Homo sapiens: one gene and its partners. The protein of the gene in region 1 interacts with the protein of each later gene in a pairwise test. Each region holds a gene or a part of one and is shown in the gene's direction. Other genes may lie near its edges.

Region 1 (3,645 bases):
CTGGGCAAAAGACAACCTCTGAAATCCATGAAAGAATTAATCATCAAAAGAGAAGAATCATTTTTACAGTAGCCCCATTGCCGTGAGAGATATTTTCATGAGCCTGGGCCACCTCTCCAACATATAGTGAGAACTTATTACAGGTTTCAGCCAACCAATTTCCATTCCAGCTTGACAGGCTGCTGCAAATTGCTGAGATTCCTCCTTGGTTGAGGAAAATAGAGTAACGACAATTTTACTAGACTCTTTTGCCATAGTGTCCCATGGGTTTATTTCAATGGTACCACTGTTGCCAACACCTATTACTTATCTTCCATATGACAAACAATTCGCATATTTACTAAGATTTATATTAGCTATTATTTCAATAATCACATCAATTCCTTTCTTATCACACATTTCTTAATTTTATCAACATAGTTAACTTCTTTGTAATTAAACACTTTGTGGGCTCCATTTTGCAAAAGTCTTTTTGTCCCTCAGTACCAACTGTGCCCAAAACCTTTAAGACATAAACTCTAGCAATTTGGCATGTTGCTACTGCAGCTCCTCCACTAGCCCCATGAACCAGAACACTCTCCAGCTTTCATACAGACACTGTGAATCAGAGCTCGATATGCAGTAAGATATGGGATACCAATGGCAGCATTTTGTTTAAAGTCCAGTTTTTCAGGCAGTTTGTAAACAGCGTAATCTGCTCCCAGAGATTGTGCCGGTAGTGAAAACTGTCACTTTTCTTGAAAGTAGATGCATTCCCTCCAACAGCTTCCGTTACCCCAGTTACATCTGAGCATAGAATAAGGTGGTTTTCTATTATAAATACCAGAGTAAATGTATGTCTCCATGGGGTTGACACCACACGCATGAACCTTGATTACAACTAATGGTCTTTTGGAACTGGTACTGCAACATCTGACTGAGTTTCAGGACTTCTGGTCTACCAAATTCAAACACTCTAACAGCTCTCACCAGCTTTTGTTCAGTTGCCATGGTCATCTAGATAAAAGCTCTAGAGTGGGAATCAAAATCTGCAAGGGCTCCTTCATATTCCACTGAAGGAGGCTGGCCAGGCTGCTTCTAACTTTTGCAGCCAACAAGACTTTTGGAGTTGGGGTTCAGTTTAATCTAAGGGTGCTAAAGGAACCAGGCCAGGGTCAGATAATGTCAGCAGAAAAATGCAATATTAGGAAATTATGTTATTTCAATTCAATATTTATCAAACCTCCTGCTTTGTGGTGCAGAGTATACAAATGAGCATGATGCAACTCTTGTTCTAAGAAAGGTGGAAGGAAGGATAAGGCAAGTCCTTAAATAATTGTAAGTCAAGGCAGAACATAATGAAGTCCTTTAAAGAAAAATGTAAGTAAAACATGATTGAGTACATAGAAAGGAGAGATTTCATCCAAAAGTTTCTGTAAGAGGTGGAGTCTGACCTGGCTCTTGAGAATGTTACCCTACAGGTAGAGTTGGGGAAGGAGAGAATTCCAAGAGAACAGAACAAGATGAGGTGGACACAGCTGCAGGAATAACTAAGCTGGTCCATTTGGTAATCTTGTTATTATAATTGAAATGGTAAAAAGATTCAGATATAATAAGGATGTAAACAGTCCACACATTTTAGGAAATGCCTTGAAAGACATCAGCATCTTACAGAAGTATATGATTTATAAAGAGCTAAATAAATGCCATGTTTTTAAAGGATGGATGTATAATTAAATTGTAACCAAAGAGAACCAGTTGACTTTCAAATGTAAATTAGGGCCAGGCGTGGTGGCTCACACCTGTAATCCCAACACTTGGGAGCCACGACAGGAGATTGCTGGAGGCCAAGAGTTCAAGACCAGTCTGGGCAACATAGTGAGACCCCATTTCTTTATTTTTGTTTGTTTTTGTTTTGAGACGGAGTCTCACTCTTGTTGCCCATGCTGGAGTGCAGTGGTGCAACCTCAGCTCACTGCAACCCCTGCCTCCTGTTCAAGCAATTCTCCTGCCTCAGCATCCTGAGTAGCTGGGATTACAGGTGCCCACCACCACGCTTGCAATTTTTTGTATTTTTAATAGATATGGGGTCTCACCGTGTTGACCAGTTTGGGTGAGAACCCATTTCTAAAAAAAAAAAAAAAATTTATTAGCTGGGCATAGTGGCATGCATCTGTAATCCCAGCTACTCAGGAGTCTGAGACAGGGGGAATTTGAGGCTGCAGTGAGCTGTTATCACACCACTGCACTCCAGCCTAGGTGACAGAGTGAGACCCTGTCTCTAAAAATAAATGTAATTTAGATCTTGAAACCAGATTAAAAGTTTAATCTCTCATTGCTTTACTGCCATTTAGTTTCTATGGTAACATGGATACATTTGGGATTTTTTTTAAATTAATAATTGTTTATGGGACAATTGGTAACTTACCACTTCAAATTAGGAAAATTTTCTTAGCAGTTAGAACTTTTGGTGGAGTTCAGATTTGCTTAAGTGATTAGTAGTTATCTGTAAAACATAATTTTTGTAAGCTAGAAAGCTTATGGCCAGGCCGGACATGGTGGTGCACACCTGTAATCTCAGCACTTTGGGAGGCTGAGGCAGGCAGATCACTTGAGCTCAAGAGTTTGAGACCAGCCTGGGCAACATGGTGAAACCCTGTCTCTACAAAGAATACAAAAATTAGCTGGGCATGGTGGCATTGCAGCCTGTGCGGCAGTGAGACCTTGTCCCCCCGGAAAAAAAGAAAGCTCATGGCCAGACACAGAAAGTAGAGTTTCAGAAAAGTTTCCATCACACTGAGTTTAGTTGTGTCATGTATGATACAAGAGTACTACAGCATTGCATTACTTTTTACCAGTGATAGTTAACAATATTATGAAGGGGTGAATTATATATATATATATATATATATACACACCTAGGTAAATAAGAACCTTAGGCCAAGTATAATTTTGTTCTGCTTACTTTTGATAGGATTAATTCTAGGGAAAGATTCTGTTTCACATTATCCTCCCATTCTTTACTTCTGAAATGATGTAGCTCTCTAGACCCTACTGCTAAGGTACTTATTACTATGATACAAAATGGCCTCACATCTTCTTCCCTGATCCCAGTGTGCGCAGACCGCAGACCAGTTGAAACCGAAAGGTGGACTAAGATGGGAGGCCTCCAACCAGGGAGAAGCCACTGGTGTTAACAGCATGATCTCTGGGCTTGGCTATTGCATCCCCACCTGCTGTCTGACATTGGGCAGGGGACCCGAGCTCTTTAAAGACTTAAAAGTCCTTGTCTGCAAGATAGCCGTAATAGTACAACACCCAACTCATTAGAGTTGTCTTCAGGATTAAGTGAGGAGTATTTGTAAAATGCTAAGCACTGTGCCTGGAATTACCAAAGGAAGCTTTTAAAAAGTCAACAACTTTTGAGGGCCAGATAGAAATTTCATATTTTGGCCGGGCACAGTGGCTCACGCCTGTAATCCCAGAATTTTGGGAGGCCGAGGCGGGCGGATCGCGAGGTCAGGAGATCGAGACCATCGTGGCTAACATGGTGAAACCCCGTCTCTACTAAAAATACAAAAAAATTAGCCGGGCGTGGTGGCGGGCGCCTGTAGTCCCAGCTACTCTGGAGGCTGAGGCAGGAGAATGGCGTGAACCCAGGAGGCG
Region 2 (4,344 bases), on another chromosome or scaffold:
CCTCTAAATTGTTGAAGCCCCGATTCACCCCTGCCCAAAGGAGACAGCAATGGCATGTGTGGGGCCACAGTCTTGAGACCCAGAGGTCCTGCTGCCCACGATACCCACTGTCCACCCTAGGGGGACTGGCCGTAGCCCTGGAGCCCGCAAACACCATGCAGGAATGCAAGAGGGTCTCAGCTCCCGAGTCCCAGGCTGGGAGGGCCCACAGTCCAGTAAACTAATCAGGCCCCGACACATCCAGGAGAGCAGCTCCAGGAGCCTGCATTGGGGAGAGAGCCTCAGACCCCTGCCACAGGCCTGCACCCCAGAAGTAGGAGCATGGGAAGACCTCTCCTTGGCTCCTGGCCAGCAGAAGTCACATTCCCCAGCCCTCTGGCTCCAAGGCAGCCTCACGTCCCAGTCACTCCTTGGCACACCCTACCAGTTGGTCAGAGCTCACTGCCAAAGGGCACCTCAATGATGAGTGGAGGGAACAGGTGTTTACCAGGAGCTTGCATGCTTTGCCTCAGGGATGATTAGGGACACAGCCAAGAAGGCACGCTATGCCCATTTTACAGATGAGGAAACGGAGGCTCAGGTTGGGCTGGTGACTAAGGGAAGCAGCATGTGGCAGGTGGCTTGAGGCATGTCTGTCCATCATGAGTAACTAGGGAGCAGCCCTGCCACTCCTCATGCGATGCACCAGGAGCCAGGGAAGCTGCTTCCTAGGGGATTCTAGCTAAGGCCAGAAGCATCTCCCTGAGTGGTGGTGGAGGCCTCTGTCTACTCCTCCAGGACTGCCAGGGGATAGGAGGGCACTGCTGACCTCACAGAGCCTCTTGGGTGAGTGAGCATCAGCTGAGCGACACCAGGTGACTACGCTTCTGCCCAGTGCTGTGCCCCCCTCTGACTCGGGCAAGGCACCACCCTGAACGCCCCACCCTGTCCCATGGAGGCCGCAAACTGCTCTGCAGAGCCAGGGTCTCCAGGAATGGGGAGGGCAGTCACCCTCATTCCACTTGTGTTCATGACTCAAAGGACTGCCCAGGTCTCCAGGCCCATAGAACCCCCAAACCTCTTACTAGGCCACACTGGGGACCTTGAGCAGCAGGCTTGGAATCCTAGGCCTTGTCTCCAGGTACATATCAGTACCCAGGCTTGGGAAGCTTTGGTCTCAGGGGGGCTGGCACTCAGGCCCTCTGCCTCAAGGAAGAAGCATGTCCAGATCTCTACTGTCCAGCCCTGCTCCCTGCCCCTATCCTTCACGGGGTCCCTAGGACAGGGTTACAGAAGCCTCATGCTGTCAGGGGATGCTGCCACCCTAGTTCCAGGGTGGCTCCGCCCAGCCCCTTCCTGCTGCCGCCCTCACTGACTCACCTGTCCAGCCTCCTACTGGGCTGGGGTGAGGGCTTATTGCCCCAGAGCCTAGATAGGCACCAGAGGCAGCTATAAAAGCATGTTGGGCCAGTCCTCAGCATCCTAGTTCGCCACTGTCTGCTGCCACACGATGCTGGGAGGCCTGGGGAAGCTGGCTGCCGAGGGCCTGGCCCACCGCACCGAGAAGGCCACCGAGGGAGCCAGTGAGGACCCAGGGCTCCTTTCTACCTGGGCTGGGGGGATCTGGGGCAGACTGGGTCTGTGGGAGGCGGATCTACGTAGGCAGGCGAGGACCTGCGGGGAGGCCTTGGCCCCTCAGGAACCCTGGTCTCCTGCTCTACCAAGTCAGCACGGAGTTGAGGGGTGCAGACCTGGGGAGGTCTCCTGGGGGCAGGGCATGAGTCCTGGTGCTGGGTGAACACTGGCAGCTTGGACCCTTCCCTCTGGAAATCTGGGGAGCCTTTCTTGTCAAAACAGCCTATTCTGAATAACCTATGCAGGAAAAGGAAGATGGATTTTTATTTTTACCATAACTTTAAAGCTTCAAAGATTTCTTAACAAGTCACCAAGTCTGTTCAAAGTCAAAAAGGGCATTTTCAATTTCATCCAAGTCCCCTAAAGCATGTTTATTTTTATTTGTATTTGTATTTGAAATGGAGTCTTGCTCTGGCACCCAGGCTGGAGTGTAGTGGTGCGATCTCGGCTCACTGTAACCTTTGCCTCCTGGGTTCAAAGTGATTCTCATGCCTCAGCCTCCTGAGTAGCTGGGATTACAGGCACCCACCACCACGCCCGACTAATTTTTGTATTTTTAGCAGAGACGGGGTTTCGCCATTTTGGCCAGGCTGGTCTCAAACTCCTGACCTCAAGTGATCCATTCCTCTTGGCCTCCCAAAGTGCTGGGATTACAGGCGTGAACCACTGCACCTGGTCCCGAAGTGTATGTTGTATTCAGAGGTCAGCAGGTATGTGTGGGGAGGCCCAGCCAGGCCCCACTCATGGGTCATCGTGTGAAAAAGTCTTGCCTGAGTTTGTGTCCTCTTTCTAAATGGCAGCAGATGCGTATTTTGTTTTTGACTCTGCAGCTGGTGTGGACCACCTGCTTTAACCTTTCACTAGCCTCTGAGTTTTTTATGATTCCTGTTGGGAGAAAAGCTCAGCGTTGGGAGAAAAGCTGAGGCAGGGCTTGCTAGACTTGCTGGCTCCTTGCTTCTAGCACTGCCATTCTCTCAAGTAGCCATATGTTTCTCATTCACTTGATACACTGTTTCCTTTCAACCTCCACATCCTCACCACCTGTTTCTTTGTTAGATCACCAATAAATAGCGTGGGCTCCCAGAACTCGGGGCCTTCGCAGCCTCCACACTCGCGATAGCGCCCTGCTCCCATTTTCTCTCTCGAACTGTCTCTTTGTCATTCCTTTGACTCCGCTGGACTTGCCGCCCCCGTGACCTGGTGTTGGGTCTCATCATCCCAACAGATTCCCATTCTAAAGATGAGGGAACCAAGAGGTGGAAGGTAGAGTTAGAATAAGAACCATTTCTTCTGACTCTGAAATCCTTCAGTTCTAGCACGCTACCACCCACACTTTAAAAAACTCTGAAGTAGGCAGAGAATTCCGTTTTGTTGGAGGAATTGCTTTGAGAGACCTGGTCTTAGTGGATGAGGCTTTGGAAACCAACCTGAGGCAGGCGCTAGCACATCCTGAGAGGGGTGTGACCTGGCACACAGGCCCAGCCTGGGCTTCATGTCTCAGCTGGCAAGACTGCCTGCTCATTGCCATTCCAGGCCGGGCAGGGCCAAGGGGCTTCAGGGACCCATGCCCTCATGGGGCTCATTGAGCTCGTCTCCCAGCAGCCAAGGCCCTGGCGTCTCCAAATGAAGCCAGCTGTGGGGGAAGGTCCTTCTCATGAGTCAGTCTGTCCTGGCTGGGGGTGGCACCCCAGAGCCCCATCTAGGATGCCCAGGGATGTATAGGTCTGTTGTGAGGATAAGCCAGCCCTGAGCCCTCACCCTGGACTGGGAGGGCAGTGGGCCTGCTCTGAGCCCTCACCCTGGACTGGGAGGGCAGCGGCTCTGCTCTGAACCCTCACCCTGGACTCGGGGGCAGCCGGCCTGCTCTGAGCCCTCACCCTGGACTTGTCTCCTCTGTTCAGTTCATGCCGTGGAGGAAGTGGTGAAGGAGGTGGTGGGACATGCCAAGGAGACTGGAGAGAAAGGTACAGCCGGCTGAGGTCGGGCAGGGAAGGAGGGAGGGAGGAAGGGAAGCTAGGTGCTGGGCCAACCTGTTCTTTGACTAACCAGGTCAAACTCTGCCCCTAATGTTGCAGCCTTTCAGAGCCTCTTGGCTGGGGCAGTTATCTATGCTCATCAGAGGCCACAGACTGTACTGCGTTAGGACACTGTCTAGATGGTTCTCTCTGTGGAATAAGAAGACAAAGTCACACAAGACTATGTGACAGCACACTGGGACAAAACATTTAACATGGCAGGGTGCGGTGGCTCATGCCTGTAATCCCAGCACTTTGGGAGGCTGAGGAGGGCGGATCATGAGGTCAGGAGATCGAGACCATCCTGGCTAACACGGTGAAACCCCGTCTCTACTAAAAATACATAAAAATTAGCCGGGCATGGTGGTGGGTGCCTATAGTCCCAGCTACTTGGGAGGCTGAGGCAGGAGAATGGTGTGTACCTGGGAGGCAGAGCTTGCAGTGAGCCTAGATCATGCCACTGCACTCCAGCCTGGGCTACAGAGCAAGACTCGGTCTCAAAAAAAAAGAAAAAAATAATTGCTGGGGGCGGTGGCTCACGCCTGTAATCCCAGCACTTTGGGAGGCTGAGGTGGGCGGATCATGAGGTCAGGAGATCCAGACCACGGTGAAACCGCATCTCTACTAAAAATACAAAAAATTAGCTGGGCACGGTGGCGGGCACCTGTAGTCCTAGCTACTCGGGAGGCTGAGGCAGGAGAATGGCGTGAACCTG
Region 3 (4,147 bases), on another chromosome or scaffold:
GGACTGGCCGTAGCCCTGGAGCCCGCAAACACCATGCAGGAATGCAAGAAGGTCTCAGCTCCCGAGTCCCAGGCTGGGAGGGCCCACAGTCCAGTAAACTAATCAGGCCCCGACACATCCAGGAGAGCAGCTCCAGGAGCCTGCATTGGGGAGAGAGCCTCAGACCCCTGCCACAGGCCTGCACCCCAGAAGTAGGAGCATGGGAAGACCTCTCCTTGGCTCCTGGCCAGCAGAAGTCACATTCCCCAGCCCTCTGGCTCCAAGGCAGCCTCACGTCCCAGTCACTCCTTGGCACACCCTACCAGTTGGTCAGAGCTCACTGCCAAAGGGCACCTCAATGATGAGTGGAGGGAACAGGTGTTTACCAGGAGCTTGCATGCTTTGTCTCAGGGATGATTAGGGACACAGCCAAGAAGACACGCTATGCCCATTTTACAGATGAGGAAACGGAGGCTCAGGTTGGGCTGGTGACTAAGGGAAGCAGCATGTGGCAGGTGGCTTGAGGCATGTCTGTCCATCATGAGTAACTAGGGAGCAGCCCTGCCACTCCTCATGCGATGCACCAGGAGCCAGGGAAGCTGCTTCCTAGGGGATTCTAGCTAAGGCCAGAAGCATCTCCCTGAGTGGTGGTGGAGGCCTCTGTCTACTCCTCCAGGACTGCCAGGGGATAGGAGGGCACTGCTGACCTCACAGAGCCTCTTGGGTGAGTGAGCATCAGCTGAGTGACACCAGGTGACTACGCTTCTGCCCAGTGCTGTGCCCCCCTCTGACTCGGGCAAGGCACCACCCTGAACGCCCCACCCTGTCCCATGGAGGCCGCAAACTGCTCTGCAGAGCCAGGGTCTCCAGGAATGGGGAGGGCAGTCACCCTCATTCCACTTGTGTTCATGACCCAAAGGACTGCCCAGGTCTCCAGGCCCATAGAACCCCCAAACCTCTTACTAGGCCACACTGGGGACCTTGAGCAGCAGGCTTGGAATCCTAGGCCTTGTCTCCAGGTACATATCAGTACCCAGGCTTGGGAAGCTTTGGTCTCAGGGGGGCTGGCACTCAGGCCCTCTGCCTCAAGGAAGAAGCATGTCCAGATCTCTACTGTCCAGCCCTGCTCCCTGCCCCTATCCTTCACGGGGTCCCTAGGACAGGGTTACAGAAGCCTCATGCTGTCAGGGGATGCTGCCACCCTAGTTCCAGGGTGGCTCCGCCCAGCCCCTTCCTGCTGCCGCCCTCACTGACTCACCTGTCCAGCCTCCTACTGGGCTGGGGTGAGGGCTTATTGCCCCAGAGCCTAGACAGACACCAGAGGCAGCTATAAAAGCATGTTGGGCCAGTCCTCAGCATCCTAGTTCGCCACTGTCTGCTGCCACACGATGCTGGGAGGCCTGGGGAAGCTGGCTGCCGAGGGCCTGGCCCACCGCACCGAGAAGGCCACCGAGGGAGCCAGTGAGGACCCGGGGCTCCTTTCTACCTGGGCTGGGGGGATCTGGGGCAGACTGGGTCTGTGGGAGGCGGATCTACGTAGGCAGGCGAGGACCTGCGGGGAGGCCTTGGCCCCTCAGGAACCCTGGTCTCCTGCTCTACCAAGTCAGCACGGAGTTGAGGGGTGCAGACCTGGGGAGGTCTCCTGGGGGCAGGGCATGAGTCCTGGTGCTGGGTGAACACTGGCAGCTTGGACCCTTCCCTCTGGAAATCTGGGGAGCCTTTCTTGTCAAAACAGCCTATTCTGAATAACCTATGCAGGAAAAGGAAGATGGATTTTTATTTTTACCATAACTTTAAAGCTTCAAAGATTTCTTAACAAGTCACCAAGTCTGTTCAAAGTCAAAAAGGGCATTTTCAATTTCATCCAAGTCCCCTAAAGCATGTTTATTTTTATTTGTATTTGTATTTGAAATGGAGTCTTGCTCTGGCACCCAGGCTGGAGTGTAGTGGTGCGATCTCGGCTCACTGTAACCTTTGCCTCCTGGGTTCAAAGTGATTCTCATGCCTCAGCCTCCTGAGTAGCTGGGATTACAGGCACCCACCACCACGCCCGACTAATTTTTGTATTTTTAGCAGAGACGGGGTTTCGCCATTTTGGCCAGGCTGGTCTCAAACTCCTGCCCTCAAGTGATCCATTCCTCTTGGCCTCCCAAAGTGCTGGGATTACAGGCGTGAACCACTGCACCTGGTCCCGAAGTGTATGTTGTATTCAGAGGTCAGCAGGTATGTGTGGGGAGGCCCAGCCAGGCCCCACTCATGGGTCATCGTGTGAAAAAGTCTTGCCTGAGTTTGTGTCCTCTTTCTAAATGGCAGCAGATGCGTATTTTGTTTTTGACTCTGCAGCTGGTGTGGACCACCTGCTTTAACCTTTCACTAGCCTCTGAGTTTTCTATGATTCCTGTTGGGAGAAAAGCTGAGTGTTGGGAGAAAAGCTGAGGCAGGGCTTGCTAGACTTGCTGGCTCCTTGCTTCTAGCACTGCCATTCTCTCAAGTAGCCATATGTTTCTCATTCACTTGATACACTGTTGCCTTTCAACCTCCACATCCTCACCACCTGTTTCTTTGTTAGATCACCAATAAATAGCGTGGGCTCCCAGAACTCGGGGCCTTCGCAGCCTCCACACTCGCGATAGCGCCCTGCTCCCATTTTCTCTCTCGAACTGTCTCTTTCTCATTCCTTTGACTCCGCTGGACTTGCCGCCCCCGTGACCTGGTGTTGGGTCTCATCATCCCAACAGATTCCCATTCTAAAGATGAGGGAACCAAGAGGTGGAAGGTAGAGTTAGAATAAGAACCATTTCTTCTGACTCTGAAATCCTTCAGTTCTAGCACACTACCACCCACACTTTAAAAAACTCTGAAGTAGGCAGAGAATTCCGTTTTGTTGGAGGAATTGCTTTGAGAGACCTGGTCTTAGTGGATGAGGCTTTGGAAACCAACCTGAGGCAGGCGCTAGCACATCCTGAGAGGGGTGTGACCTGGCACACAGGCCCAGCCTGGGTTTCATGTCTCAGCTGGCAAGACTGCCTGCTCATTGCCATTCCAGGCCGGGCAGGGCCAAGGGGCTTCAGGGACCCATGCCCTCATGGGGCTCACTGAGCTCGTCTCCCGGTAGCCAAGGCCCTGGCGTCTCCAAATGAAGCCAGCTGTGGGGGAAGGTCCTTCTCATGAGCCAGTCTGTCCTGGCTGGGGGTGGCATCCCAGAGCCCCATCTAGGATGCCCAGGGATGTATAGGTCTGTTGTGAGGATAAGCCAGCCCTGAGCCCTCACCCTGGACTGGGAGGGCAGTGGGCCTGCTCTGAGCCCTCACCCTGGACTGGGAGGGCAGCGGCTCTGCTCTGAACCCTCACCCTGGACTCAGGGGCAGCCGGCCTGCTCTGAGCCCTCACCCTGGACTTGTCTCCTCTGTTCAGTTCATGCCGTGGAGGAAGTGGTGAAGGAGGTGGTGGGACATGCCAAGGAGACTGGAGAGAAAGGTACAGCCGGCTGAGGTCGGGCAGGGAAGGAGGGAGGGAGGAAGGGAAGCTAGGTGCTGGGCCAACCTGTTCTTTGACTAACCAGGTCAAACTCTGCCCCTAATGTTGCAGCCTTTCAGAGCCTCTTGGCTGGGGCAGTTATCTATGCTCATCAGAGGCCACAGACCGTACTGCGTTAGGACACTGTCTAGATGGTTCTCTCTGTGGAATAAGAAGACAAAGTCACACAAGACTATGTGACAGCACACTGGGACAAAACATTTAACATGGCAGGGCACGGTGGCTCATGCCTGTAATCCCAGCACTTTGGGAGGCTGAGGAGGGCGGATCACGAGGTCAGGAGATCGAGACCATCCTGGCTAACACGGTGAAACCCCGTCTCTACTAAAAATACATAAAAATTAGCCGGGCATGGTGGTGGGTGCCTATAGTCCCAGCTACTTGGGAGGCTGAGGCAGGAGAATGGTGTGTACCTGGGAGGCAGAGCTTGCAGTGAGCCTAGATCATGCCACTGCACTCCAGCCTGGGCTACAGAGCGAAACTCGGTCTCAAAAAAATTGCTGGGGGCGGTGGCTCACGCCTGTAATCCCAGCACTTTGGGAGGCTGAGGTGGGCGGATCATGAGGTCAGGAGATCCAGACCACGGTGAAACCCCATCTCTACTAAAAATACAAAAAATTAGCTGGGCACG

The links.
Region 2: the proteins of ARMC10 (region 1) and FAM25G interact in a two-hybrid assay, tested with the Homo sapiens proteins (one large-scale study listed by BioGRID).
Region 3: the proteins of ARMC10 (region 1) and FAM25C interact in a two-hybrid assay, tested with the Homo sapiens proteins (one large-scale study listed by BioGRID).

What each region holds. Positions count from the first base shown.
Region 1 is NC_000007.14:103,088,621-103,092,265, forward strand, and holds part of ARMC10 (armadillo repeat-containing protein 10), read left to right. Parts: exon of another isoform or gene 1-1,008; intron 1,009-3,645. UniProt on the Homo sapiens protein: May play a role in cell survival and cell growth. May suppress the transcriptional activity of p53/TP53.
Region 2 is NC_000010.11:47,488,820-47,493,163, reverse strand, and holds the start of FAM25G (protein FAM25G), read left to right. Parts: upstream 1-1,463; 5' UTR 1,464-1,489; coding exon 1,490-1,562; intron 1,563-3,515; coding exon 3,516-3,578; intron 3,579-4,344.
Region 3 is NC_000010.11:47,996,986-48,001,132, reverse strand, and holds the start of FAM25C (protein FAM25C), read left to right. Parts: upstream 1-1,341; 5' UTR 1,342-1,367; coding exon 1,368-1,440; intron 1,441-3,393; coding exon 3,394-3,456; intron 3,457-4,147.